Linked DNA regions of Homo sapiens. The protein of the gene in region 4 purifies or fractionates together with the protein of the main gene of each other region. This does not show direct contact. Each region holds a gene or a part of one and is shown on either strand. Other genes may lie near its edges.

Region 1 (5,286 bases), on a different chromosome or scaffold from region 4:
CTGGTTGAAATGACATCACAGCTCTGTGATCCCACGTTGACCGCCTGGAATTGCCAGAGACTAGAGAGCACTGCTCCTTCCTCTCCTGTGAAAGAAAATGGGAACCAGCCCAAATGACACTGTACAGATGAGGCAACTGAGGCCTAAGCGGGCAGAGAATGTACCCAAGGTCCTCCAGGGAGCCCAGGCAGGGCCCAGGGCAGGGGGACCCAGACGCCTTTCTAGTCTGCCCTCCAGCTGCTCTGCACAGCCAAAGCCACTCGGAGGCCAAGGGAACCAGGGTGTGAGTAATGGAAACCAGGCAGTGGGGCCTTCCGAAATGGGAATTCCATCTGCCTGACTTTGTTCTCCCGGACTTTGGTTTCCATGGCAACTCTGGGAACCAGGAGGTTGGGAAGGTGGAAGAGGGAAGGCCTGGCCCTAAACTGAATCCCTAGAATATAAAGAACTGGAAAGGTGGGTCTCCTTGTGGACCCAGTGGCTCCTCCCAGCAGAAGATGCGAGAGAGGCCAGGTCAGGCAGGGAAGTCCTGGGCTCAGACCCAGTACTGCCTCTACCATTTTGGGGGAGTAGGGAGTAGTATTATAGTCTTCCCTGGGCCCCAGTTTTCCCAGCTGTCAGGTCCCCAAATCTCAGGCCTGGAAAAAACCTGGAAGGTGCCCTTGTTCAGAATTAGAAGCACGACTCTTCCCAGGCCCTTCCAGCCTCTGTGAGACACTGAATCTCTACAGTGGGAAAGCTCTTCACAGTTTATAAAGCCCAATGACACTCATTGCCAGGTCCTGGAGAAAGACCCAGCACCACTCCTGGAGGGGCTCACCCTCTGGTGCCAACATGTATCAAGCACCTACGGTATACCTGGCCCCAGGTTAGGACCTTTCTGCAGAACTGGCTCACTGGCTGTTCATCCCAGCACTGAGAAGACAATAGAATCATCCCCATTTTTGCAGGCTCAGGGATGGGCAGTGACTTGCCAAGGTTACAGAGCAAGTCAGTAGCAAAGACAAGACTCAAACCCAGGATTGCCTGATTCCAAAGCCTTTGGAGACAGAAAAACCCATGCCTGACTCAGTACGGGCTAGTCAAGGAGAGGCCACGGCTGCCGGGGAGCAGAGGGAAGGGGGTTCTCTGCTGACCTAGGCTACTGTTGTTGCACAGAAGATTCTTCCAAATGGGTTTCAAGGGTGAGCAAGCATTAGGGGTCCCATTTGCAAGCGGGGCAGGAAAAGTCAGGTGTGGTCAGAGCGGCAGTCAGACAGCCCACCTCTTCCTCCTGATGAAGCCCTGCTCAGCTTCTGCTCCACACCCAGGCCCTGGCTCTAGTCCCCTGTAACCCTGAAGAGGGCTCAGTCCAACTCCCTGAAGGCCTCCAGAGACCAACAATTCTGATCCTCTCACTGTGCAGAGGGGCCAACAGGGCTGGCCTTGCCCAGGGAGATGAGTAAGGGGAGGCAGGGAGGAGGGAGCTGTACAGCCCCATGTCGTCTGCAGCTCCAAGTCTGCAGGACCCCAGGCAGGGAACAAGATCCAAGGAGACGGGGCCCAGCTCCTCCTGCATCAACTCCATCTAGCTTAATCTAAGACAGCCCTGCTGAGCCAGACCCCACCCTGGGCCATGCCCTGGCCCCTGGGAGGTTATATATGTGGGGTCAGCTTTGCCTTCAGCTTGGCCTGGACTCTGGGCCTCTTCTGCCCACTTCTAGGCAAGTGGCCCAGGTCCTCCCTTGAAGGATGCCCTGGGCCTTTCCTAAACTCGCATCTTCTGTTAGGTAGGAGGGGAAACAAAGGCACAGTGGGGAAAGCCTTACCCAGGGCCACAGAAAGACTCTGTGAGTCCTATCTCCTGTCTCCACAGCTGTTCCTTCTGCCCAGAGGCCTCCATAAGCCCACCACCACCCTTCCTGAGATTCTGGCCCCGTCTACCTTCACCAGCCATCCCTGCACCACGTGAAAGTTCTATTCAAACCTCAGGGTGTGGCGAGGCAGAGAATTGAAGGAACTTGCTGAAAGACATGTGGCCAGCTGGCGATAAGCAAGGACTCCATCCTGTAGCCGGCAGAGCCCAGGCTTTGCAGACAGTCAGACTTGGGCTGAACCCCTGCCACCTGCTGGCTACGTGACCTTCCCTGTCTGTGCTTCCATCTCCTCATCTGTAAAATGGGGATAAGCCCTACCTCCCAGGCTTGGGGAGGAGATGCAGTGACCACTAGGATGAGTGGCACAGTGCCTGGCACAGAGGAAGGCATGGGAGAGCAGCCCTCACCAGTGTATCAGTGTATCGGGCTCCAGGATGGGGGCAGGTGATGGCAAGAGAGCAGTGGCTGAATCAACAGCCCAACGACCAACCCTCCCAGCCCCAGCCACCCTGGGAAGGCTCAAGACCAGGAACACACAAAAAGGGTCAAGAACAAGAAATAACACAGGCCTTTTATTTGCTCCAGAACTTGGCTACTGTGTGGTCTGAGGGTGCCATGCTTTCCCAAAGCCCCCGAGGGACACTCCACCCAGGGGGTGCCAGATCTCTGTGTGTAGCCAGACTGCAGTGTCCCCCCAGGCTGCCTTAGTCCAGAAGGCCAGCTGCCTGCCACCGGTGCCCGGGACGAGCATATCCCCTGAAGCTGGAGAATGGTGTCCACCTTTGCATGGCAGCTTCTCCCAAGGCATTGGCTAAAATATTGCACTTGTAAATCAGGAAAACTGATGAGGCAAGGGTTTCCTATTACAGGACGACGTGCCAAGCATCCAACTACTATTTAAATAAATAAAACTCAAAGTGGGGGTCTGAGCTGCAAGCTCCAATGGCCCTCTAGGAGGGCCCGAGAGCCCAGGCCTGGACCTCCTGCCCCATCAGCCAGTTCTTTAAGGAACTTGGTCAACGCGAAGCCTCCGCGGTCTCCGCAGCAGGGAGCAGCAGCTCCAGATCTGGCTTGGCCAGGGCCCCTGACCTGCCAGGGTCTTGGGCCCCCTCGTACCGGGGCAGTGGGGACCCCACGGGGCCCATCCTTCTACTCCTCCAGTAGCCTGGGCCTCTCTTGGTCCAGGCCTCGCTTCCGTATGTCTATCCGTCTGTCCAGAGACACAGCCTCTGGGGGCTTGCTTGCCCCCTCCGTCACAGGGGGCAGGGAGGCAGGTGGGCAGGGGACCCAGCCCGCCTGGTGTGAACGCTGAGCTCGACTCCAGTGGCCCCTAAAGCGGGGGACTCATCTTCTTCTGGTTAATAAGGTCCAGGTAGAGGTCAGAACGGAGAAAGCGAGGGTACGAGTCCTTTTCCATGAGCCCGAAGATGCGCTTCTGTGCCAGGTCGAAGCAGCCCCGCGTGACGCTCTGCAGGTTGTCCTTGGTGTGCTCCCGCGTGTAGGAGTCCAGGTTGACCTGGGGAGGCAGAGGGGGACATGGTCAGGGCTGCCTGCTGGGGACTGACCCTAGGGCCCATGTGCCTGGAAGGGACCCATCCAGCCTCTCACCTCCAAGCCCCTTTGCCCCACATCTTAAGGTTCATCTGAAGTAGAGACCCTCAGACCAGAGGATTCAAGTCCTGGCTCAGTCATTTCCTGTAGGGCTGGCAGCATTTATAAGGCTGAAAATACCACCCTGAGGGTTAGGCTTCCTGGGTTCAAATCCTAGCAGTGCCACACCTGGGTGTGTGACTTGAAGCAAATTACTTAAGTGCGGTGAGCTTCAGTTGTCTTATCTACCAGCTAGGAATAATAGTACATTCCTCAAAGCGTGAAAACCAAGCAAGATCATCCATATAATGTGCTTTGCGCATAGTGCCTGGCACACAGTAGGCACTCAATAGATGGGAGCAATTATGATTTGTCTCTGTCACTCAGGCTGGAGTGCAGTGGTGCGATCTCGGCTCACTGCAACCTCCGCCTCCCGGGTTCAAGCGATTATCCTGCCTCAGCCTCCCGAGTAGCTGGGACCACAGGCGCCCATCACCACACCTGGCTAATTTTGTAATTTTAGTAGAGATGGGGTTTCGCCCTGTTGGCCAGGCTGGTCTCGAACTCCTGACCTCAAGTGATCCGCCTGGCTCGGCTTCCCAAAGTGCTGGGATTACAGGCATGAGCCACTGTGCCCAGCCTGTCTCTTCGTTTCACAGGTTGTTGTGTGGATTAAACATGAGAACGCATACATAAAGGGCTCAGCACATGCCTGGCATGCGGCAGTGCCTTGGTGGTGGCCATTTTTATTACTAACTGGGATTCTGTTCTTCCCCTGATCCTAGCTTGCATCTTCCCTGCTGGGTACCTGGGCTCATGGAGTCATTCTGGCCTCTCCCCTTCCTGTGCTGCTGGCTGCCACCTTGCAGCTGAAGGGCCACTGGGCCCTGGGGATTGGAGGAGCGGAGGGTCTGCCCTGAGGTCCTACCTCCTTGCATGCCTGGATCGCGATGTATTCAGCAAAGATCTTCTTGGCCTTGGATGCCATCTTGGACTGTGACTTGACCTTCTTGAAGTCCTCACAAGCCAACCAGAACTCCAGATTCTCCTCACTGAACTCAGTGCGAAGGAAGGCTTGGAACACTGCTAACCCGTCTGTGAGGAGAACGGATCCTGGGGTAAGAGGCAAACTCAGCCTCTCCTGCCCTTAAGATGCCTCAGCTTACCCCTACAGGACTTTAAAGATGGGCGTGCTGGGAGCTGAGTACAATGCCCGTCCCCGACAGCCAGGAGCCCTGGGATGTGGCCCCAGCCCTGCCACTGCCTCTTTCAGGGTCTCAGTGGGGTCTCCCCCTCTCTATGCCTCAGTGTCTTCATCTGTGAAATGGGGACTATCGATTCTGTCTCCCGGAGCCCTGGGAGGAGCCGATGGGACCCTGCCCATGAGATGGCAGGCACATTTGGCGCCGTGAAAGCCCTCAGTACGTAGAAATGTTTATTCTTATTCTGGGAATATGGATCTGAGCACACAGGTCCCACGGGCCTCCGGCAGGCAGTGCCAGCTCACATGGACGGGGAGGGGCTGGCAGAAGCTGGCTCCAAGGCCAGACCAAGGGCCTCAGCTTGGGCTCAGCCCCTCCGCAACAGCAAGGACACCCTGACGGCCGAGGAGAGGGAAGGCGGCCTCTCTAGCACCAGCTACACAGGGTCTGGATGGGGGCGAAGGGGAGAGGGAGAGAGGGCACAGGGAGTGGGCAGGCAGGCCCAACTTACATTTGTGAACCAGCAGCTTCTCCAAGGACTCGCCCCACTTGAGGGCTTCCTCTGAGGTGGGCCTGAGGGGTGAGGGAGGAAACACAGTGAGGGCACTGAGAGGCTTGGGAACCTTGGGGGAAGCTGG
Region 2 (6,030 bases), on a different chromosome or scaffold from region 4:
TGGGTAAAGTGGCAGTGAAGTCTTCCCTTTCTAACAAAGCCTGAAACCGTTTTGAGAAGAAACTATTTTGAGGGCAGCTTCTGACTCAAAGACGTTACGAAATCCCCACCTAGGACACCGGTATGCCCAGTGGTCCCTACTAAGCTTTTCTGTGTCTTTTAGAGTCGTTGAGTGGCCAGCTTCTGCTCACTGTACTGAAGGAACTACTTAATGCTATTTCTGTCTTGAGTTCTGGCTTATTCTTCCTTGTGATTCTTATATCTTTAGCGGGATTGAATTGAATTTTTGCTGTTGAGTGTAATAGCCAGATCCTCTGTAACAGACCAGGGAGTAACTAGTTGGGCTCCTTTGGGCCAAGTCTGAGACTTACTGAGGTTTCTTCATTGTAGGTTGTTGTATTTCGTTGGCAGGTGGGAAATGACCTTTTCCGTCATAGTTTGTGATCATGCTGCTTTAAGGCTGGAGTCCTGCTCTCCTTTCCTTTTTTGACCTATATGGGAGCACTTCTGTTCGAGTCTTATCTCAATTTGAAGGAACAGTGCTTTTGGATCAACTCTGCCGAATAATTGAGCAGTAGCCCATATTTCTGCCTGGGACACCTTCATTGAGGGTCACGAGGGAAAGAGAGAACACGTGTAAATATTATGATGATGATGTTAACAACTATTTACCAGTTTCATACAATTGACAGTTTTTTTTAGCCGGGAGGAGTTCAGTATTGACTCATTGGGCATCTTATGTAGGGTGTTTTTGCACACCTAGACTTTAGGATCTGGAAAGACAACTGAAAATCTTGAAGCCCACTGCCAAACATTTGTGGATCTTGGGCCAACTGCTAAGGAAGATCTAGACTATGACTTGGTCTTTAATTATTTTTATTTTTTTCTCCTTTATGTATGTATGTATTTATTTATTTATTTTTTGAGATGGAGTCTTGCTCTGTTGCCCAGGCTGAAGTGCAGTGGCGCGATCTCAGCTCACTGCAACCTCAGCCTCCTGGGTTCAAGCAATTCTCTGCTTCAGCCTCCCAAGTAGCTGGGATTGCAGGTGCCTGCCACCATGCCCAGCTAATTTTTGTATTTTTAGTAGAGATGGGGTTTCACCATCTTGGCCAGGCTGGTCTTGAACTCCTGACCTCGTGATCCACCGACCTCGGCCTCCCAGAGTGCTGGGATTACAGGTGTGAGCCACCGCACCTGGCCTCTCCTTTTATTTTTATTTTTTTGAGATGGGGTCTCACTCTGTTGCCTGGGCTGGTCTCAAACTCCTGAGCTCAAGGGATTCTCGTACCTCTGCCTTCCTAGTAGCTGGGACTACAGACACGGCCTCCGTGACCACTCTCTTCTCTCTTTTTAAAAATTAAGGAATGTTGCTGACATGTGCAGTTCTGAGTCTCAGAGAGGAAGTCAAACAGAACATGTAATCTGGTGATACTTGTGTTTTCTTTGGGTCACTGGTTTAGTTATCTATTCTGTTTCCTTTCTTCTTTCCACCTCACCTTTCCAGATGCTCCACTGTATCTTTAGGCTGCCATTGCAGATTGCTGGGCCCACAAAACCCTTAGGTTGTACTTTCTTAGCTGTCATCTCTTGAAAAGCCAAAGTTCTGGCAGTTGCTATTAGAAACCAGTTCCTGGCTGAGCGCGGTGGCTCACGCCTGTAATCCCAGCACTTTGGGAGGCTGAGGTGGGCAGATCACGAGGTCAGGAGATTGAGACCATCCTGGCTAACACGGTGAAACCCCATCTCTACTAAAAATACAAAAAAAATTAGCCGGGCATGGTGGCACGCGCCTGTAGTCCCAGCTACTCAGGAGGGATTTTCCTACTAAGGCAGGAAAATCGCTTGAACCCAGGAGGTGGAGGTTGCGGTGAGCTGTGATCGTGCCATTGCACTCCAGCCTGGGCAACAAAAGTGAAACTCCATCTCAAAAAAAAAAAAAAGAAAAGAAAAGAAAAAAAAGAAAGAAGCCAGTTCCTTGGTGTAGTTAATTTACTTTGAGAGGTATTTGCCAGTTGGGATATGTCCTAAAAAGTGACTGACATTTTATTCAGGGCCTGGTATATCTTGAGCTCAGTGCTAGCTAGTATTTTTACTTTATCCAGTGTAACCTTCATGACTGTCCTGTGAGGTGAGAATCATTTTCCCTATTATACCTATGAAGAAACAGATTCAGAGAAATTAAGTTATTTGCTTAAGGTCACACAGCAAGTAAGAGGAAGGACTGGAATTCAAACCCAGGTCTCTCTGCTCTGTGATATTGAATTGCCTCTGGGACTGTGACACATGAAGAAGAACTGAAAAGACCAAGGCTAAGAGCCTGGGGGAACATGATACCTCATTCAAATACTTGAAGATTGTCATGGGGAAAGGAAACTGGATGTTCTCTGTGATTCTAGAAGGCATCTCAGGATTAAATGACATAATTTCCAAGAAGGTAGACTTTGGTTTGATAGGAGATAATGTAGCTTTCTAAAAACAAAATGGGCTGCCTTGTGAGGGAGTGAGTTACCCATCATTGCAGATATTCAAGCAGAGAGTTTGCCACATCTTTTTTTTTTCTTTGAGACAGAGTCTTACTTCGTCATCCAGGCTGGAGTGCAGTGGCATGATCTCAGCTCACTGCAACCTCTGCCTCCCAGGTTCAAGTGATTCCCATGCCTCACTTCATCTTCCAGGCTGGAGTGCAGTGGCATGATCTCGGCTCACTGCAACCTCTGCCTCCCAGGTTCAAGTGATTCTCATGCCTCAGCCTCCCAAGTAGCTGGAATTATAGGCATGTACCACCACGCCCATCTAATTTTTGTATTTTTGTAGAGATGGGGTTTCACCATGTTGACCAGACTGGTCTTGAACTCCTGACCTCAGGTGATCCGCCCGCCTCAGCCTCCCAAAGTGCTGGGATTACAGGTGTGAGACACCGCGCCCAGCCCCGGCTAATTTTTTTGTATTTTTATTAGAGACAGGGTTTTGCCATGTTGCCCAGGCTGGTCTTGAACTCCTGAGTTCCACCTGCCTCGGTCTCCCAAAGTGCTAGGATTACAGGCATGAGCCACCGCTCCTGGCTTTTTTTTTTTTTTTTTTTTTATGAGACAGGGTAGATGGGAAGACAGGTGTGTGCCATCACGCCTGGCTAATTTTTTAATTTTTTCATAGAGATGGGGTTTCACTATGTTGCTCAGGCTGGTCTCAAACTCCTGGGCTCAAGCAGTCTGCCTACCTCAGCCTCCCAAAGTCCTGGGAATACAGGTGTGAGCCACCATGCCCAGCCTCCCTGTCTGTTTGATCTGTAAAACCTAACATGGCTTGGCACGGTGGCTCACACCTGTAATCCCAGCACTTTGGGAGGCCTAGGTGGGTGGATTGCTTGAGCCCAGGAGTTTGAGACCAGCCTGAGCAACATAGTGAAACCCAGTCTCTACAAAAAGAAAATTTAAAAATTAGCCAGGTGTGGTAGCATGTGCCTGTATTCCCATCTACCCAGGAATCTGAGGCGGGGGCATCACTTGAGTGCAGGAGGCAGAGGTTGCAGTGAGCCAAGACTGCGCTACTGAACTCCAGCATGGGCAACAGAGACCCTGTCTCAAAAAAAAAAAAAAAAAAAAAAAGCCAGTTGTGCAGTGGCTCATGCCTGTAATCCTAGCACTTTGGGAAGCTGATGTGGGCAGAGCTCAGGAGTTGGAGGCCAGCCTGGGCAACATGGCAAACCTGTCTCTACTAAAAATACAAAAAATTAGCCAGCCGTGGTGGTGCACACCTGTAATCCCAGCTACTTGGGAGGCTGAGTCATGAGAATTGCTTGAACCTGGGACGCAGAGGTTGCAGTGAGCCAAGATCGTGTGCACTCCAGCCTGGGGGACAGAGTGAGACTCTGTCTCAAAAAAAAAAAAAAAACCAAAAAAACCCAAAAAAACTAACATGTATTGAATATTTAGTATATACCAGGCACTTGCTAGATACTTTTTCTTTCTTTTTTTAAGACAGAGTTTTGCTCTTATTGCCCAGGCTGGAGTGCACACGATCTCTGCTCACTGCAACCTCCGCCTCCTAGGTTCAAGCAATTCTCCTGCCTCAGCCTTCTGAGTAGCTGAGATTATAGGTGCGCGCCACCATGCCTGGATAATTTTTGTATTTTTTTAGTAGAGATGGGGTTTCACCATGTTGGCCAAGCTGGTCTCGAATTCCTGACCTCAGGTGATCCACTCACCTTGGCCCCCCAAAGTGCTGGGATTACAGGCATGAGCCACCAGGCCCAGCTCTACTTTTTCTATAATGTCTCTTATAATCTTCAGAGCTCCCCTGGAAGGAAGGTATTACCATTATCCCCACTTTACAAATGAGAAACTGAGACTCTAGACTAAAGTTAAGGAATATGCTGGAGGTTACACAACTAGTAGTGTAGGGCTGATATTTGAACCCATGTCTCCTCCTTAGCTCTGTGACCTAGGGCCAATCATGTATCCTCTCAGAGCTATAGTTTCACCTATAAAATGAGGCTTATTGTAGTACCTACTTTTTAGTGGGTTTTTGAGGACTAAATGATGAAATATATCCTTTTTACTAGACCTCACTGATTGCCCTCAAGAGCCAGGGCTTGGATGTAAAGGAATACCACTTAGTTGGCTTCTTCTGGGTAAATTCAGGCCTATGTGTAACTCTGAGAGTTCTAGGGCCCATTCTTTGAGCTATTAAGTAATAGCTGCTGACTCCTTGAAGGGCTTTGTGGCATTGAAGACTAATACCTTAAAAACTTTTAAGCCTGGGCTGGGCGCAGTGGCTCATGCCTGTAATCCCAGAACTTTGGGAGGCTGAGGTGGGCGGATCACAAGGTCAGGAGTTTGAGACCAGCCTGGCCAAGGTGGTGAAACCCTGTCTCTACTAAAAATACAAAAATTAGCCTGGCGTGGTGGCGGGTGTCTGTAGTCCCAGCTACTCAGGAGGCTGCGGCAGGAGAATCGCATGAACTCAGAAGGTGGAGGTTGCAGTGAGTTGAGATCGCAACACTGTACTCCAGCCTGGGTGACAGTGAGACTCCATCTCAAAAAAAAAAAACAAAAAAACTTTAAGCCTGAATAAGGGGAGGATGCAGTCAAAAGGCCAGAGTGTATAGGAGGCAGTGTCAGAGGCCCTGTGCAAAGAAAATTCTCAGCTACTACTGCAGAGCCAGATTTGAGGGTCACCGTTGGCATTTTTGTATTTATTATCTTCTTTTAGGATACAAGGTCACAACTGCTAGAGCTGTAACAGAGCTCAGTGCCAAGAATAATGACCCTTAATCCTCCGTATAGCCATCTGGGGAGGTATTAACCCCATTTTCTTGGAGATGGGGTGGAGAACAGGATCAGACCTTGCCCAGGGAGCTCTCCAGAGGCTGTTGAGGGCAGTGTTTGGATCAGGACTTTTGTACAATTTTGTCCTTATTCATGACCCCCCAAATTCTATAAAACTGCTTATCCTTGAACCTCTTAGGGGGCCTTCCTGAGAATGGGAGCTAGGCATTCATGGTCAGGGAGCTTCATAGTTGAGGCCTGAGTGTTTGGGTGCTGATGGCCTACCTGGTTCCCTTTTGAGTTACACATCTGGATATAACACTACTGTCACTGAGTTAGAAAGGAAACATTTCTAACTTGAATGGTTTAGTTTTCCTTGACCTTGCAGCTAGTAGTAGAGTTACAGGATGAAACTCCAGAGCCTTCTCTACAAGAGATATTTTGAATTGTGGCAGGATTTGTCAGGATGCAAGTTAAAGACTGCAGATGCTTTTAAATAGTGAGAGAGTATAGCATTATCAAAATATGCTCCCTTTTCTCTGTTTCCTTCCACTATCTTAAGGTAATTGTGAGGCCTAAGAGCAGACAGGAAAATTAGCTATGATCACTGGAAAACAAAGTTCTGAAAACATCCAGAAAAAATTTTCACAAAGCTCAAACAAGTGGCTGGGTGTGATGTCTCACACTGTTTTTTTTTGTTTTTTTTTTTTTGAGAGTCTCGCTGTGTCACCCAAGATGGAGTGCAGTGGTGCAATCTTGGC
Region 3 (6,030 bases), on a different chromosome or scaffold from region 4:
AGACTGTTTCAGCAACATAAGGCCCAAAATAATAGGACCTTGAATTAAAGTAGAGGCAGTGGGAGGGACAGATGTGGGTGGATTAGGAAGATTAGGCAGACTTGATGGGATTTGGGAAGTAATTGGATGTGAGGGGTTAGGAACAGGGAGATTAAAGATTAAAGGATGAGAGAGACCCTGGCTTTTGGCTTGGATACCTGAGGTCACCAAAATGGCGGGCGAACAGGAGAGCACCGGAAGGCTGTACAGTGCCAACGTCGTCAGCGGGAGAGAGAATCAGCATAAGCCTCAAGGGAAAAGTTTCACAAAGACGAAAGAGCAATTGTGTGGCTACAGCATTTGGGAATGAGGACATTCCCCGTCCCCACCCTGAGAGATAAAGGGTACAGAGGATGCAAAGTGTCTCCTGGAGAGGGCAAGACGAGGAGTAAAGGCTTCCTGCAAGACCCACGGGGCAGGGCAAGTACTCAGGAAAGACGCTGGGGAGCTGGAAATGAGACTTGCAGAAAGTTCTGTGAAAAGGTGGAAAAGAAAGGAGAAAACCCGAGAAACTATATTGGGAAGAAGACTCAGTACACACAAGTATATGGAAATACCCAAATACACCCTTCCCCAATTTTCTGACCTATACAAATTTTATCTATTTAAGGCCGGGTGCAGTGGCTCACGCCTGTAATCCCAGCACTTTGAGAGGCCAAGGCGGGCGGATCACGAGGTCAGGAGATCGAGACCATCCTGGCTAACATGGTGAAACCCCGACTGTACTAAAAATACAAAAAATTAGCCTGGCGTGGTGGCAGTGGGTGCGTGTAGTCCCAGCTACTCGAGAGGCTGAGGCAGGAGAATGGCGTGAACCCGGGAGGCGGAGCTTGCAGTGAGCTGAGATCGCGCCACTGCACTCCAGCCTGGGGGACACAGCAAGACTCCATCTCAAAAAAAAAAAGTTATCTATTTCAAATGCTAAGCTTGTAGACACTAAAAATGAAAATACCTAATGAGAGAGGTTGCGATAGAACTGGTACACTAGCAGGAAAAAAAAAAAAAAAAGCACAAAAAGGTTTTGGTTGTTTGTTTTGAGACAGAGTCTCACTCTGTCGCCCAGGCTAGAGTACAATGGTGCAATCAAAGGTCATGGCAGCCTCAACCTCGCAGGCTCAAGCGATCCTCCCACCTCAGCCTCCCAAGTAGCTGGGACCATAGGCCCAACTTTTTTGATAGAGACAGGATCTGGCTGTGTTACCAAGGCTGGTCTCAAACTCCTGGGCTCAAGCATTCCTCCCACCTTGGTCTCCCAAAGTGCTGGGATTATAGGCATGAGCCACCACACCAGCCACAAAAATCTTTTGAAAACAAACTGACTGGCCAGGAGCAGTGGCTCACGCCTGTAATCCCAGCACTTTAGGAGGCGGAAATGGGTGGATCACTTGAGGTCGGGAGTTTGAGACCAGCCTGGCCAACTTGGCGAAACCCCATCTCTACTAAAAATACAAAAATTAGCCGGGTGCGGTGGTGCGTGCCTGTAATCCCAGCTACTCAGGAAGCTGAGGCAGGAGAATCGCTTGAACCGGGAAACAGAGGTTGCAGTGAGGCAAGATCACACCACTGCTCTCCAGCCTGGGCCACAGAGCGAGACTCTGTCTCAAAAAAAAAAAAAAAAAAAGAAAGAAAAAAAGAAAACAAATTGACTATCTGTATTGCAAGATATATTTTTTAAAATGTTTTAATATTATAATCATTAATATCATAATCACGACCATGCCTGGCTAACTTTGTATCTTTTTTAGTAGAGACGGGGTTTCACCATATTGGCCAGGCTGGTCTCGAACTCCTGACCTTAGGTGATCCACCCGCCTCGGCCTCCCAAAGTGTCGGGATTACAGGCGTGAGCCACCAGGCCTGACCCTGCTCTGCTATTTCTACCATGACAATTTATTCAGCTTCATCAAAAACTTATTTACAGTCCAGTTCCTTACCCACTGTAGATTCTAGTCCACCATGGCATGCACACTCTTGAAGACACTCTCAGGATACCCTTGTCTTTCTCTCCTGGTAAACCTCAACCATACCATCCTCCTATTCTTGGCTTGCACACAACTGATACCAGTGACTACTAGTGTTTACCGAACACTTACTATATGCTAGGTGCTGTTTTAAGTACTTTTTTTTAATTTTATTATTTTTTTTTGAGACTAAGTCTTGCTCTCTTGCCCAGGCTGGAGTGCAGTGGTGCGATCAGCTCACTGCAACCTTCGCCTCCTGGATTCAAGCAATTCTCCTGCCTCAAACCTCCCAAGTAGCTGGGATTACAGGCGCCCGCCACTAAGCCCGGCTAATTTTTGTATTTTTAGTAAAGACAGGGTTTCACTATGTTGGCCAGGTCGGTCTTGAATTCCTGACCTCAGGCGATCCACCTGCCTCGGCCCCCCAAAGTGCTGGGATTATAGGCGTGAGCCACCGCACCCGGCCTTAAGTGCTTTAATTCATTACTGATTATTTTAATTCTCACAACTCTGTGAGGCAGGTGCTATTATAATCATCCCCATTTTACAAACAGAGAAACTATAGTCATTTAACTTGCCAGGAAAGATGCACAGTCACACTAACTGGTCTCATTTCAAATTAATGGCAACAGACCTCTAGCGGGTACCGAGCAAAGAGCAACACAACTGCCACATGCCTTGGTGGGTCTGATTTTTTGAAACTCCGTCTCAAAAAAAAGAAAAAAAAGAAAGAGTGCTGATGGAGGAGGAGAAGGCCCAGCAGAGCCCTGAGTGCCTGAGTGCTCCAGCGCAGGGAGGTGGAGACAGTGACTCATGCTGCTAAGAGATGCAGTGAGGCGAATTTAGAGAATGACCCAAGAGGGGCTGGGCGCGGTGGCTCATGCTTGTAATCCCAGCACTTTGGGAGGCCGAGGCAGGAGGATCACGAGGTCAGGAGATCGAGACCATGGTGAAACCCCGTCTCTACTAAAAATACAAAAAATTAGCCAGGCGTGGTGGCGGGCGCCTGTAGTCCCAGCTACTCGGGAGAGGCTGAGGCAGGAGAATGGCGTGATCCCGGGAGGCAGAGCTTGCAGTGAGCTGAGATGGCGCCACTGCACTCCAGCTGGGTGACAGAGCGAGACTCTGTCTCAAAAAAAAAAAAAAAAAAAAAAAAGGAGAATGACCCAAGAGGACATTAGTGACCTTGACAAGAGCACTTTCAGGAAGCGATGGAGGCAGAACCTGATTAGGATGGGTGGGAGAAAACTATAGCCAATCTTTTTTTTTTTTTTTTTTTTTTGAGACGGAGTCTTACACTGTTGCCTGGACTGGAGTGCAGTGGTGCAATCCTGGCTCACTGCAACCTCCATCTCCTTGGTTCAAGTAATTCTCCTGCCTCAGACTCCAGAGTAGCTGGGATTACAGGCGCCCGCCACCACGCCCAGCTAATTTTTTGTATTTTTAATAGAGATGGGGTTTCATCATGTTGGCCAGGCTGGTCTCGAACTCCTGACCTCAGGTGATCCACCTGCCTCAGCCTCCCAAAGTGCTGGGATTACAGGAGTCAGCCACCGCACCCAGCCCCAACTAATTTTTGTATTTGAGTAGAGACAGGGTTTTACCATGTTGGCCAGGCTGGTCTAAAACTCTTCACCTCAGGTGATCCACCCATCTCAGCCTCCCAAAGTGTTGGGATTACAGGCGTGAGCCACCGTGCCTGGCCCTGGATTTCACTCTTGCCCACCCATAAACCATTCACTCTTCTGTTTTAAAACTCTCTTGGCCGGGCGCAGTGGCTCATGCCTGTAATCCCAGCACTTTGGGAGGCCAAGGTGGGCAGATCACAAGGTCAGGAGTTCGAGACCAGCCTGGCCAATATGATGAACCCCCCATCTCTACTAAAAAAATACAAAAAAATTAGCCGGGTGTGGTGGCACATGCCTGTAATCCCAGCTACTCGGAAGGTTGAGGCAGGAGAATCACTTAAACCTGGGAGGCGGAGGTTGCGGTGAGCTGAGATGGTGCCACTGCACTCCAGCCTGGACAACAGAGCAAGACTCTGTCTCAAACAAACAAACAAAAAAAACCTCTCTCATGGCCTGGCATGGTGGCTCACGCCTGTAATCCTAGCACTTTGGAAGGCTGAGGCAGGTGGATCACCTGAGGTCAGGAGTTTGAGACCAGCCAGGCCAACGTGGCAAAACCTGTCTCTACTAAAAATACAAAAATTAAGCCAGGCGCGGTGGCTCATGCCTATAATCCCAGCACTTTGGGAGGCCGAGACCGGCGGATCAAATGTCAGGAGTACGAGACCATCCTGGCCAATATGGTAAAACCCCGTCTCTATTTAAAAAAATACAAAAATTAGCTGGGCATGGTGGCGGGTGCCTGTAATCCCAGCTACTCGGGAGGCTGAGGCAGGAGAATCGCTTGAATCCAGGAGGCAGAGGTTGCAGTGAGCCGAGATCACGCCATTGCACTCCAGCCTGGGCGACAGAGCAAGACTCGTCTCAAAAAAAAAAAAAAAACACCTCTCTCATGACTTCCCAAATAAACTCCAAATGCCTTACCCATAAGAACCAACACGACGTGGCTGCTCTTCTCTGTCCTCACCCCTCTGTCCCCCTCACTTGCCTCAGTCTGGCTATACCAGCATTCTGGGTTTTTTGTTTTGTGTTTGTTTGTTTGTTTGTTTGTTTGTTTGTTTGTTTTGGGATGGAGTCTCACTCTGTCACCCAGGCTGGAGTGCAGTGACATGATCTTGGCTCACTGCAACCTCCATCTCCTGGGTTCAAATGATTCTTCTGCTTCAGCCTCTCAAGTAGCTGGGATTACAGGCACCCACCATCACACCCAGCTAATTTTTGTATTTTTGTAGAGATGAGGTTTTGCCATGTTGGCCAGGCTGGTCTCAAACTCTTGACCTCAGGTGATCTGCCCACCTCAGCCTCCCAAAGTGCTGGGATTACAGGTGTGAGCCACTGAGCCCAGTCTGTTTTGTTGTTTTTTGAGATGGAGTCTCACTCTGTCGCCCAGGCTGGAGTGCAGTGGTACAATTTTGTCTGACTGCAGCCTCCACCTCCTGAGTTTAAGAGATTCTCCTGCCTCAGCCACACAAGTAGCTGGGATTACAGGCGCGTGCCACCACATGCGTCTAATTTTGGTATTTTTAGTAGCGATGGGGTTTTGCCATATTGGCCAGGCTGGTCTCGAACTCCTGGCCTCAAGTGATCTGCACACCTCGGCCTCCTGAGTAGCTGGGATTACAGGCGTGAGCCACCATGCAGGGCCTTTCTGGTCTTTTAACGCACAAAGCTATTTCCCAGTTCTGGGTGTTTATAGTATCATTGCCAGTTCCTGGAAAGCTCTTTCCAGAAGCCTTCACATGACTGATCCCTTATCCTCCTTCAGGTCTTAGCTCAAATGCCTCCTTTTCAGAGAGCTCCTTCCTGACCATTTTATGCAATGTGCTTTCCTCTAGTTAGTCTCTCTTCATTCTGTGTATTTCCTTCAGAGCATTTATCATCATCTTGGTCCTGATGCTTGCTGGTTTACATGTTTGTTGTCTGTCTCCCACACAGAAAGCAAACCAGCCCTTCATCTGTCTTGTCCACCACTTTATCCCAGCACAGTGACTAACATATATCAGTAGTCAATCAATAAATAGCTATAAGCCAGGCACGGTGACTCACACCTGTGATCCCCGCACTTTGGGAGGCCAAGGTGGGCGGATCCTCTGAGGTCAGGAATTTGATATCAGCCTGCCCAACATGGCGAAACCCCGTCTCTACTAAAACTATAAAAATTAGTCGAGTGTGATGGCGTGCGCCTGTAATACCAGCTACTTGTGAGGCTGAGGCAGGAGAATCGCTTGAACCCGGGAGGCAGAGGTTGCAGTGAGCCGAGATCACACCACAGCACTCCAGCCTGGGTGACAGAGCAAGACCTTGTCTCAAAAAAATAAGAAATAGAAATATATATATGCTGCCACAAGAAATTCACTACTTTTTAGCAAAAAACACAGATTCCTAATTAAAGAAAGGGGAAA
Region 4 (6,030 bases):
GGAGTTTCAGAACTTAGTAGCCGGCTGAGGACGGCTTCCCCCTAAAACACCTCGGCTGCCTCGGCCACCCAGCACCTGCCAGAAATGCCGGCAGAGGCCGAGGCCGCTACAGAAGAGCAAGTACACCAGCGCCCGCCTCCTGCTCAGCCCCACTGGGCAGCACCCATGTGTGGGCAGGCTGGCGCAGGGGCCGGGAGGATGGGGACAAAGGAGACGCCAGCCCCGTGGGTCCCGCAGAGACCTGCCCATGCAGTGACCAGCGTCCAAGGACACAGATGACCCCAAGAAGCGGGAGCAGTACCTCACCTAGAGCTTAGCAGAGAAGGATGCGAAATCCGGCAGCCCTTTGACACCGTTTGGGAACGTCAACCATGCCCCGCCATCGGCCACCAGCACGGCCCCCGTCACGTAGGAAGCCAGAGGGCTGGCCAGGTAGAGCACGCTGTGGGCGATCTCGGTCTTGTTCCCCAGCCTCTGCAGCGGGCTGGCAGTGACCTTGGTGCTCAGGCTGGCCTGAGGGCCACCTGGAGGGCAGCAGAAGGCTCAGGCCCCGTGAGCCCCAAGACCCAGCACCCTCCCCTCTCCCCCAGCTCATTCCCTGAGAGGCATCTGGGAACAGCAAGGACACAGTCAGTGTCACCAAGGCCTAGCATGGAGCAGGATCAGGCCAGGCACAGAACATAGTTGCCACCATGGAACCAGCACAGGGCTTTTCAACATACACCCTGCCAAGGTTCTGGAAGCTTCATGGGCACCCTGTGCCCCAGGAGAGGATCTGTGGGAGGCCTGGGCTCCCTGAGAGCCTTACCCAGTCGCCGGAGCCCCTCTGTGCCACTGATGGGGCCAGGGGCGAGGCTGTTGACGCGGATGTTTTGGGGACCCCACTCCACAGCCAAGTGCCGCGTCATCGCGTCTGCACAGAAGAAAGTTGGATATGAAAGGGCCGCTCTGCCCTCTGCGAGGGCGCAGGGCCAAGGCCAGGTCTCGCTGCCTGCAGCTGGGCTCAGCTTCAAGTGGAGACTGCTGGCCTCCTGGGATGGAAGCAGACGGCCCATTGGGGACCCACGTGGGCAAACCTGGGCGGGGGGGGGTGGTCATACCCACAGCGGCCTTGGCGGAGCCTGCATGCACCTGGAGCGCCTGCCCCCGGTTCCCCAGGGTGGCAGTGATGTTCACGATCACCCCTCCGTGGTCCTGCAACACACAAGGCCCGGGGCAGTGAGCGGGCGGGTGTCGGGGGAGGTCACAGGACAGTGAGCGGGTGGCTGTCAGGGGGAGGCCCGGGGCAGGGAGCGGGCGGCCGTCAGGGGGAGGCCCAGGGCAGGGAGCGGGCGGCCGTCATGGGGAGGCCCAGGGCAGGGAGCGGGCGGCCGTCAGGGGGAGGCCCCCGCTGGGAGTACACCCACCCGGAAGAACTTCTCACAGAGCGCACAAGGCACCCACCCGGAAGAACTTCTCACAGAGCGCACGAGGCACCCACCCGGAAGAACTTCTCACAGAGCGCACGAGGCACCCACCCGGAAGAACTTCTCATAGAGCACACGAGACACATTGAAGGTGCCGCTGGTATCGATGTCCATCACGGTCTTGAAGGCGTTGAAGGACAAGGCGCCAGCGGGGCACAGGAAGTTCCCGGCCGCACCTGCAGAATGGGAGACCGCAGGAGCTGCTGGAGCCTGGGGAGAGGGATGCCAAGTGGGTGGTGGCCAGGTGGGCAGAGCGGAGGGTGCAGGAGGGAGCCCAGGTGCCCTGTGGCACAGGGAGGAGACCCATGCCCTAGGATAAATTCCAAAATGACCAGAGCAAGACGGGCGTCCTGGCTGCACTGTGTCCCCGAGAAGAGAAGACATGCTGAAGCCCTGGCTCCGTACCTGCGACTGTGGCCTTGTTTGGAAATGGGGTGGGTTGCAGAGATAATCGAATTACACTGAAGTCACAACGAATTAGGGTGAGCCCTAAATCCAATGACCAGCATCCTTATAACAAGGGAAGAGGACACACAGACACACGCCACGGGAAGACAGTGGCAGACAGTGCAGCGACGGTCTCCGAGCCCGGGAGGGCCAAGGGCTATGGCAGTACCCGAAGCCACGCAGAAGGCAGGAAGAGGCTCTCCCCTGGGGCCTTCAGAGAGCATAGCTCTGCCGACGCCTTCCCCTTGGACGTTCTGGCCTCCAGAACTGGGAGATTATATTTCGGTTGTTTTACCCACACAGGTCGTAGTACTCTGTTAGCCCAGGAAACTAATACACAGGATGTTTTTAAAAGGGAATTTCTGCAGAGTGAAACCAGTGTTGGTTCATCAATTGTAACAAACGCAAGATGTTAACAGGGAAAACTGTAGGTGGGAGTATGGAATTCCATATACTATTAATTATTCTATAAACCTAAAACTGTGATTTAAAAAAAAAAATCGGCCAGGCGTGGTGGCTCACGCCTGTAATCCCAGCACTTTGGGAGGCTGAGGCGGGCGGATCACGAGGTCAGGAGATCGAGACCATCCTGGCTAACATGGTGAAACCCCATCTCTAGTAAAAATACAAAAAGTTAGCCAGGCGTGGTGGCAGGCACCTGTAGTCCCAGCTACTGGGGGACTGAGGCAGGAGAATGGCATGAACCCGGGAGGCGGAGCTTGCAGTGAGCCAAGATTGCGCCACTGCACTCCAGCCTGGGCGACACAGCAAGACTCTCTCAAAAAATAAAAATAAAAATCAATAAAAATAAAAAATAAAGAAATAAAAATAAAAGCTGGGGGCCAGGCGCGGCGGCTCACGCCTGTAATCCCAGCACTTTCGGAAGCCAAGGCGGGCGGATCACCTGAGATCAAGAGTTCGAGACCAGTCTAAACAATATGATGAAACCCCATCTCTATTAAAAATACAAAAATTAGCCAGGTGTGGTAGCGGGCGCCTGTAATCCCAGCTACTTGGGAGGCTGAGACGGGAGAATTGCTTGAACCCGGGAGGCGGAGGGTGCTGTAAGCTGAGATTGTACCATGGTACTCCAGCCTGGGCAACAAGAGCGAAACTCCCTCTAAAAAAAAAAAAAAAGCTAGGCCAGGCTAGCTTCTATTTTATTGATGACTCTTGCTTGTAATCCCAGCATTTTGGGAGGCCAAGGCAGGAAGATTGCTTGAGCCTAGGAGTTTGAGACTGGCCTGAGCAACACACACTAAGACCCTGTCTCTACAAAAAATAAAAAATATAAAAATTAGCCAGGCGTGATGGCACACGTCTGTAGTCCCAGCTCCTCAGGAGGCTGGGGCAGGAGGATGGCTTGAGCCCAGAAGGTGGAGGCTGCAGTAAGCCATGATCACACCAGCCTGGGTGACAGAGTGAGATGCTGTCTAAAAAAAAAAAAAAGGCTATTACTTTTTTTTTTAAAGACGGAATTTCAGGACACAAGGGCACCCGACTCTACCATTGAGCTGTGTTCATGGCGTCCACTTGGGCTGCAGCTGTGCTGACCTGCTGCCACCCAGAGAAGCGGAGTCAGGCCGGAGACAGAGGGCCAGAGACAGAAGGCGGGACACAAAGGCCTGGAGACAGAGGGCCAGAGACAGAGGGCCAGAGACAGAAGCCCGGAGACAGGGGGCCGGAGATGGGGCCGGAGACAGAGGCCCAGAGACAGGGGGCCGGAGACAGAGGCCCGGAGACAGAGGCCCGGAGACAGGGGGCCGGAGACAGGGGGCCGGAGACAGAGGCCCGGAGACAGAGGCCCGGAGACAGGGGGCCGGAGACAGAGGCCCGGAGACAGGGGCCCGGAGACAGAGGTCCGGAGACAGGGGGCTGGAGACAGGGGCCCGGAGACAGGGGCCCGGAGACAGAGGGCCGGAGACAGAGGCCCGGAGACAGGGGCCCGGAGACAGGGGGCCGGAGACAGAGGCCCGGAGACAGGGGCCCGGAGACAGGGGGCCGGAGACAGAGGCCTGGAGACAGGGGCCCGGAGACAGGGGGCCGGAGATGGGGCCGGAGACAGAGGCCCGGAGACAGGGGGCCGGAGATGGGGCCGGAGAGAGACGCCCGGAGACAGAGGCCCAGAGACAGGGGGCCGGAGATGCGGCCGAAGACAGAGGCCCGGAGACAGAGCCCGGAGACAGAGGCCCGGAGACAGGGGCCCGGAGACAGGGGGCCGGAGATGGGGCCGGAGACAGGGGGCCGGAGCCTGAGTCTTGGCCTCAGGTACCTGGATGGGGTGCAGCCCACCCCAGCACAGGCAGCTAGGTTCCCTGGCATGGTCCCCACCCCATGACCAGAGTTCTAGGGCCTCCAAATGGTACCACCAACCTGTGAGAAGCCACCAACCTCACTCAGCACCGACTCACAGTTAATGAGAATGTCGATTCTGCCAAACTCCTTCAGAGCCTGGTCCACGGCGGCCATGACAGCTGGGGGCGCTCGGACGTCCATAGAGAGAGGGAGGCAGCGCCGGCCGGTGGCCCCAGCCAGCTTCCTGGCGGCCTAGAAGCCAGGTAAAGAGGCAGACAGCAGCCCTGCAGCCTCGGCCTGGAGAAAAGGCCTTTGGAATCTGCAGAGGACGATGCTTCCGGGTTCCTCGGGGACCCTGGGTTTGCTGCTGGACCCCACTCTGGGGAAGCACAGCCTGCAAGTGCCCACGACCCCAGTGGATGTTTGTGGGAACCTGCCACGCTCTCCCCCCACCTGCCACCTGTCCTAGAATCCTCCCTCTGCGTCGCCCTCCAGGCCACTGTCACCCATGTCCTGCCCCTGCTGCAGACCAGAGGTGGCACAGGTGAGACTCTCCTCCCAGGTCGAGGGCTCCAGTAGGTGGGACGCACGGACCACCTAAATAACCCAGGTGAGCCCAGAGGTCTTTCTTGGGGCCACATTACCCCCAAACAGGAAGGTCCCTCCCAGAACCCAATAACTAGATTTTTTAAAAAGTCAAAGATGTCTCTGGGAGGCCACTTACACTGAAGCTCCATATTTAGGATAGGTGCAAGTTTTGGTGCCGGCTGGGCACAGTGGTTCACACCTGTAATCCTGGCACTTTGGGAGGCTGAGGTGCCGGCCGGGCACAGTGATTCACACCTGTAATCCTGGCACTTTGGGAGGCTGAGGTGCCGGCCGGGCACAGTGGTTCACACCTGTAATCCTGGCACTTTGGGAGGCTGAGGTGGGCGGATCACCTGAGGTCAGGAATTCGAGACCAGCCTGGTCAACGTGGTGAAAACCCATCTCTACCAAAAAAATGCAAAAATTAGCCAGGCGTGGTGGCGGGCACCTGTAGTCCCAGCTACTCCGGAGGCTGAGGCAGGAGAATCGCTTGATCCTGGGAGGTGGAGGCTGCAGTGAGCCGAGATCGCACCACCACACTTCAGCCTGGGTGACAGAGCGAGACTCCCGTCTCAGAAAAAAAAAGTTTTGGTGCCAACATCCCCATAGCCTCTGGACTCTCCTGGCCCAGGCCCAGCCCCAGCCCCCCCACAGCCACCCGAACAGGGGACCATGGGAGAGGCCCTCTCACCGTCAGCACTCGCGGCAGGCTCCTACTGGCAATCACCGTATGGCAGCCGTGCCTGCAAAACCAGAAGCAGGTGTGAGGGCAGTGTGGGCGAGGGGCACTCCCGGGGCATCTGCCCAGCTCCTGAGCAGGAGTCTCTCAGGCGGAAGTACCAGTCCAGGCTGAAGGCCCAGCTGGCAGAGGGCACAGGGGCGTGAACAGGACTGAGGTACTCTGGAGGGACCTCAGGTGGTGCCCACCCCGGGGTTTCTGGCATGGGACATCCCACCGCACAGGCCTGCGGGTCCTGCCCCAAACACCAGGTACAGAGACAGCTGTGAGCCACAGACGCCCAGCCCACACATCTGCCTGGGGCCTGCTGGGCCCACATTCTCCACCCCCTTCTCCCTGTGGGGCTGGCGTGGAGGACTGTTCTGAAGCGGGGTGCTCCCTGCTCCCCTTCCTGACCACGTGGATGCGAATCCACCACGTTGGCCTCTATGAACCCTGGTTCCAGGAATGCCGCTAGGATTTCCAGCTTATCTACTGTTCTTGCGAAAGAGCACA
Region 5 (6,030 bases), on a different chromosome or scaffold from region 4:
GAGGAGTGTAGCTCATGGGTGGCTGTCCAGACTTGGGAAGTCGGGCTTAGTGGCATACTCCTGCCTCTCTGCGGCCATTGGCTGTCCAGGCTGTGGGGTGCAGAGCTAACTGTGTGCCCTGAAGGAAGTGGTGCTCATGTATGATGGATTTCCTAAATTTGGCTGCCCGTCTTTTGTAAGAAGCTTGTGAACTCATAGAATGAGCTATGCAATCTAACTGGCAGTGAGAGTCTAAAGAGACCTGCTGGTGTCTGTTCCTTGTTTTCTCTTCCAGTTTGAAAGGGGCGCTACTCTTCATCACCATTGCACTCATTGGCACTGGCTGGGCTTTCATTAAGCACATCCTTTCTGATAAAGACAAAAAGATCTTCATGATTGTCATTCCACTCCAGGTAAAAGAACCCTCATCCCATTTGTCACTTCCTTTCTTGGCGCTTAGCAGGGCTCAGCTCCAAGCCTGTATGGGAAGAGGGAGTCACCTCACCCTGAAACCCCAGCTTCTGCTAGTGGAGGTTGAAGACTGAGATTCTCTTTCTGAATTCTGAACAGACTTCAGGTCATTGCACTGGGAGATGCTTGGGCATCAGTCAGCCACTGGCCTTTGGGGGCCTAGATTTTGAGTAGAGAGCTGCTGACAGTGACAGGGAGACACACAGTAACACACAGTACTGTTTTCTCTTCTGCATCATTTGCTTCATAACTAAATGGTGCCCTTGGCAAGGAAGCTCAGAGATGTAGTGATTTTATTAACAAAGTATTTTAAAACCGTGAACTACACCAGTGAGTTTCCACAGGTAGAATATGGTAGTAGACGTGAGGGGCAAACATTTCCTAAATCCTTACCATGTTTGGGGCCGAGGGCCAAGGCCAGCCTTACAAGGCTGTGAGTCTTTTGCGGGAGGAGCCTTGTCTTACTGGAAGCAGAACTTGGATGTAAAGAACTTACAATGAACAGAGAGGTTTTAGCAGGGATGCACAGCTACCCTGCTCTGCTTGACCAGACAGCGTCTGTTTGACAGAGTTGTCCCTGTGAACTTTTCTCACATTTTGGAGCACAAAGTAAATGTGGAAGGTTGGGGGTGGAAGGGGACAACTCCTGAGGCACCCAGATCAGCCGTCCCAACTCTGGCAGAGTTTGCAGCAGAGCTCCTCTCGGAGTTCTAACAGACCTCATCCACCCTTACGTTCAATAATGAGGAACATGTGTTGACATCAAATGAATGGGACAGGCCAGTTGCTCTGTGTTTCCAAGGAGAGAATAAGCACTCAAGTTGGAAGGATCAAGGAGGGCTTTGTGACAGAGATAGGGCTGGCCTGGGTGTTGAAGGAAAGGAATGTGACAGAGGCAGTAAATACACATGACCCTGCTGTCTGCTAAGCAAAACATGCTGAGGGACTGTGCCGGTCTTTCGGCTGTCGAGCCACCGTGGTCACTTCTTCAGCCAGACTGAGTCCTACAGCCTGCCGAGGTCTCGGAGTTGTGAATGACGGAGACTGGGTTGTCACCCGGCTGCGTGTGCCTCTTCCCTTTAGTAGAGTCCCTCATCCCTCTAGAGTCTCCCCCCACCAGCCTGAACCAGGCTGTCGTGGGGCATAGCCTTCCAGGAAGCCCGTCCTGGGCTTCCCTGAAAGACAGACACACAGAGTTCCATGGAATGTCAGTCTGAGAAGATAAGGACATTTAACAAATTAAGAAAGTCATGAGTATTTAGACAATAGAACTAGTCTGGGAGGGCCTTAAATGTCAGCCTGAAAAGTTAAAACTGCTTCCTTTTGGCCATGGGCAGTGACAGAAAGTTTCTAAGTAAGGAGTAGATGATGTCCCTGCAAAATGGTGTTTCAGGAACACTCTTGGCACGTTGTTCAACACTGGGAACATTCTGTCTCTCATGCAGTGTGTGAATTAAGGACAAAATGGAATTTTGAATTTAAGATGTGAAAGCCTTTGTTTTCTACTTTGTCCTCTTACTTTTAGACAGGGTCTCACTCTGTCGCCCGGGCTGGAGTACAGTGGTGATCATGGCTCACTGCAGCCCTAAACTCCTGGGCTCAGGCGATCCTCCTGCCTCAGTCTCCCGAGTAGCTGAGACCACAGACGTACACCATCACACCTGACTAATTTTTAATTTTTTTTTTTTAATTAGAGGCCGTGTCTCACTATTTTGCCCAGGCTGGTGTCAAACTCCTGGGCTCAAGCAATCCTTCTGCCTTGGCTCCCCAAATTTCTGGGATTATGGGTATGAGCCACCGCACCCAGCCCTACTTTGTCTTTTTAGATGGAGCCACAGATGCTAGTGTTTTGGATAGACAGGGCTTCACGAGCAGTGTGGGACAGGGAAGGACCCAGAAGCTGGGGGTCATTGGAGAGGCTGAAATTTCAGATAATTTTTGCATTAGTTTTAAATGAAATTTCGGATAATTTGATTCTAAGTCCTGTATAGAAAGAGAAATTAAACTTAGAGACTTCCTAAATAATAGCACTACAGATTTTACATGCAAAGTGTGGAGGATTACCTTTTACAGCAAGTCAGGCAGAGATTTGGGACCAGGGACTTCTCATGGGGTATATAGGTGGAATGATAACCTCTGCATCCATTCCCAGTGGTAATCTTCAAAAGGATGTATTATAAGTGGTAAATTTCCCTTATGCTCTGTGGCATCTCAGTTTAGCCAGTGGAAAGACTTTTTATAAAGACTTATGCTAAGAGCCTAATAACGGGCCTGAGTACAGAGCTTAATAGTGGGCCTGAGTATATGAGGCTGTAGGGCTGGAATCAGCCATGCTCACCCTCTGGTCTCTGAAAACACAGTTCCATTGTCTGGCACTTAGATGAGTTATTGTCACTGAGCACCATGGCCTGAAAAGTATGGGCATTGTGGCTAAATAGGGTGTTAAGTGCCACCTATCCAGCAGTCCAGCACCTGAGTGACTCCACTGGGTTTGGGGTACCTGAAAAGCAAAGTGTCCCTGTTATCTACTGCTGCATAACAAATCACCCCAAAACTCAGCGACTTAAAACGACAATAACCCGTCATTCTCTCTCTCAGTTTCTGTGGGTTAGGAATTCAAGAGTGGCTAGCTGGGTAGGTCTGACTTGGGTCTTGTGGTCATAGTCACACCATGGCTGGGAGCATCTTGAAGTCTCCACTCGCATCTGTCTTCTGGGCTGAGAAGCTTGCTCAGGTGGGGACTGGGACAGCCGGGGCTCCTGGGGGGGCCTTTCCATCTCTGCATGGTCTGTACAGCAGGGTAGTTTCAGGGTAGCCAGACTTCTTACAAGAAGGCTTAGGGCTCCAAAGGTCCCAAGAGAGCTGGGTGGAAGCTTTATCTACCTTGGAAATCACACAGCAGTACTTCCATCTTACTGTATTAGAGCAATTACGGCCTGTGCAGATTCAGGGGGGTGGCATAGAGACTCTCCTTGATAGCGGAGTGGCAGAGTTCTGGAAGAGCACGTGGGACTGGAAAGAATGCTGTGGTCGCAGATCGTGGGTCTGGAGGCCAAGGTGTACACCCCACATTGGGGCTGCTAGCATCATAACAGTCCACCCATGCTTTGGGGCCTCAGCAACTTCTCATGTCTGTAGGTCCTGGCAAATGTAGCCTACATCATCATAGAGTCCACCGAGGAGGGCACGACTGAATATGGCTTGTGGAAGGACTCTCTATTTCTGGTCGACCTGTTGTGTTGTGGTGCCATCCTCTTCCCAGTGGTGTGGTGAGTAGCTCACAGGGAGGGAGGCCACATGACAGCTTGGCTGTCAAGCCCAATAGCTGAACTGGCCATTCCCAAACTGATCTCAGTCACATGGGACGTGTGTTTAAAAGTACAGCTTTCTGAGTCCCAGACTGACCTGAATCAGCCTCCAGGGGCAGAACCCTGTGTCTTTTTCCAGTTACTCGGGGTATTCTGGCAGAGCTAATCCGTCACCATGAGCTGGCATTTAACAGAGTTCTAAGACAATAGAGAGGAATTGGGAAATGAGAACTTGGTAGTAACTTAAAGTAGCAGCCTGAATTTGTGGTGGTGGTAGGGAGTTGGAGAAATCCCATAAACAGCCAGTTCTTGCCAACTTAGGTGGAAAATGAGGAAGTTCATTAACATAAAACTAGTGATAGTTCTCAGCACACAAACATTTTTGATGTTTTCAGAATGGATTGCTCCATTCCTGGAAATGGCAGTGTTTAGATGCACAGATTGTGCATTGGGTCTGTGTAAAGAAGTGTTAGTGTCAAGTCAGTGGTTGATGAGAAAATATCCTTATTAAATCACATGCAGAGTGGTAGAAATTCAGAAGGCTAGCAGCAATAAAACACTTTACCCTTAGTGATATAATTCCATGGCTATTGGAATGCAATTCTTTTGAAATAAATTTTAAAGAAAATAGATTCACCCCGGCCTTCCATTACAAGTGCTTCTTTTTTTTTTTTTTAACCCGAGATGGAGTTTCGCTCTTGTTGCCCAGGGTGGAGTGCAATGGCTCAATCTCGGCCCACTGCAACCTCTGCCTCCTGGGTTCAAGTGATTCTCCTGCCTCAGCCTCCTGAGTAGCTGGGATTACAGGTGCGTGTCACCATGCCTGGCTAATTTTTTTTGTATTTTTAGTAGAGACAGGGTTTCGCCATTTTGGCCAGGCTGGTCTCAAACTCCTGACCTCCGGTGATCCACTTGCCTTGTCCTCCCAAAGTGCTGGGATTATAGGCATGAGTCACCGCAGCTGGCTGAGGTGCTTCTTATTGCAATGCCCCATCCAGTAAATTAATATTTTTGAGGATCCTGGGGTTTGTCAGTTACTCTCATTATTTATAACATGGTGCAAATGGAGAGTACTTCTCATTCCAGCCAGTTAGATTCACTCTTCACCCTCATTCCATCATACATCACACATGATCTCGTATCAGTTCAGCAGACAGCTACCAGCATAGAAGAGAGTATGAATGATGCTCCCACCTCAGCCTCCTGGGTAGCTGGGACCACAGGCACACACTACCATACCCAGCCAATTTTTTGTAGACAGGGTTTTGCCATGTTGCCCAGGCTGGTCTCAAACTCCTGGGTTCAAGTGATCTTCCCACCTCAGCCTCCCAAAGTGCTGGGATTATAGGCATGAGCCACCGCACCCAGTGGAATATGAATGACTCTTCCTCCTCACTGCAGCCTCCTGCCGTCCTGCACAGGAATTAGTCACTCGGGTATCTAACATAGGATGTCCAGCATTGTTTCCAGATCGAAAAGAGCACCTCATTAGGGAACAGAGGTTCACACCCTACTTTTACACATGCCACTATCAGAATAGTCAAATATAAGGAACCCCAACAAGCTGTCGAGGTGTAAGCAGCCATTTCCTGCCCCTTGTTAATTACAACACTAATGAGCAGATTCCAAATGGCAAAATTCCTTAAGGTAAATATCCTAAAAATTACTGTAAAATGAAAAAAGTCAGTAAGTACTGGAGAGGTGATTCAAGATTAATAATATTTTTAGGCTGGGCGCGGTGGTTCACGCCTGTAATCCCAGCACTTTGGGAGGCTGAGGTGGGCGGATCACGAGGTCAAGAGATCGAGACCATCCTGGCCAACATGGCAAAACCCCATCTTAACTAAAAATATAAAAATTAGCTGGGCGTGGTAGCATGTGCCTGTAGTCCCAGCTACTCGGGAGGCTGAGGCAGGAGAATTGCTTGAACCCAGGAGGCGGAGGTTGCAGTGAGCCAAGATCATGCCACTGCACTCCAGCCTGGCGACAGAACAAGACTCTGTCTCAAAATAAATAAATAAATAAATAAATAATAATAATAATAATAATACTTGTAAATATCCCGATTCAGCCAGCATTGCTTCAGGGCCAGCAGTGTACTGGTTAGCTTTCGTGTGGTGTTCCATTCAGTTCTCAAGCAGATAGCCCCTCTCACAGGTGGGCAAATTACGGAGGATTTAGGAAGAGTAATTGATTTGCTGACAAGAGTGAGTGACAGTGTCAGACCACAGCCGCCTTCCCTCACACAGCCTGTCTGCCTGTGCCCTGTTCA

What was found.
Region 1: the proteins of DECR2 (region 4) and RGS3 purify together in Homo sapiens (co-immunoprecipitation; one large-scale study listed by IntAct). This does not show direct contact.
Region 2: the proteins of DECR2 (region 4) and WDTC1 purify together in Homo sapiens (affinity purification with mass spectrometry; one large-scale study listed by BioGRID and IntAct). This does not show direct contact.
Region 3: the proteins of DECR2 (region 4) and WRAP53 purify together in Homo sapiens (co-immunoprecipitation; one large-scale study listed by IntAct). This does not show direct contact.
Region 5: the proteins of DECR2 (region 4) and GPR107 purify together in Homo sapiens (affinity purification with mass spectrometry; one large-scale study listed by BioGRID and IntAct). This does not show direct contact.

What each region holds. Positions count from the first base shown.
Region 1 is NC_000009.12:113,594,854-113,600,139, reverse strand, and holds the end of RGS3 (regulator of G-protein signaling 3), read right to left. Parts: intron 5,222-5,286; coding exon 5,160-5,221; intron 4,542-5,159; coding exon 4,375-4,541; intron 3,373-4,374; coding exon 3,187-3,372; 3' UTR 2,402-3,186; downstream 1-2,401. UniProt on the Homo sapiens protein: Down-regulates signaling from heterotrimeric G-proteins by increasing the GTPase activity of the alpha subunits, thereby driving them into their inactive GDP-bound form.
Region 2 is NC_000001.11:27,235,934-27,241,963, forward strand, and holds part of WDTC1 (WD and tetratricopeptide repeats protein 1), read left to right. Parts: intron 1-6,030. UniProt on the Homo sapiens protein: May function as a substrate receptor for CUL4-DDB1 E3 ubiquitin-protein ligase complex.
Region 3 is NC_000017.11:7,689,873-7,695,902, reverse strand, and holds part of WRAP53 (telomerase Cajal body protein 1), read right to left. Parts: intron 1-6,030. UniProt on the Homo sapiens protein: RNA chaperone that plays a key role in telomere maintenance and RNA localization to Cajal bodies. Specifically recognizes and binds the Cajal body box (CAB box) present in both small Cajal body RNAs (scaRNAs) and telomerase RNA template component (TERC).
Region 4 is NC_000016.10:405,855-411,884, reverse strand, and holds part of DECR2 (peroxisomal 2,4-dienoyl-CoA reductase [(3E)-enoyl-CoA-producing]), read right to left. Parts: intron 5,540-6,030; coding exon 5,488-5,539; intron 4,461-5,487; coding exon 4,325-4,460; intron 1,643-4,324; coding exon 1,518-1,642; intron 1,195-1,517; coding exon 1,101-1,194; intron 914-1,100; coding exon 809-913; intron 525-808; coding exon 307-524; intron 1-306.
Region 5 is NC_000009.12:130,100,832-130,106,861, forward strand, and holds part of GPR107 (protein GPR107 isoform 3 precursor), read left to right. Parts: intron 1-274; coding exon 275-392; intron 393-3,588; coding exon 3,589-3,719; intron 3,720-6,030. UniProt on the Homo sapiens protein: Has been proposed to act as a receptor for neuronostatin, a peptide derived from the somatostatin/SST precursor.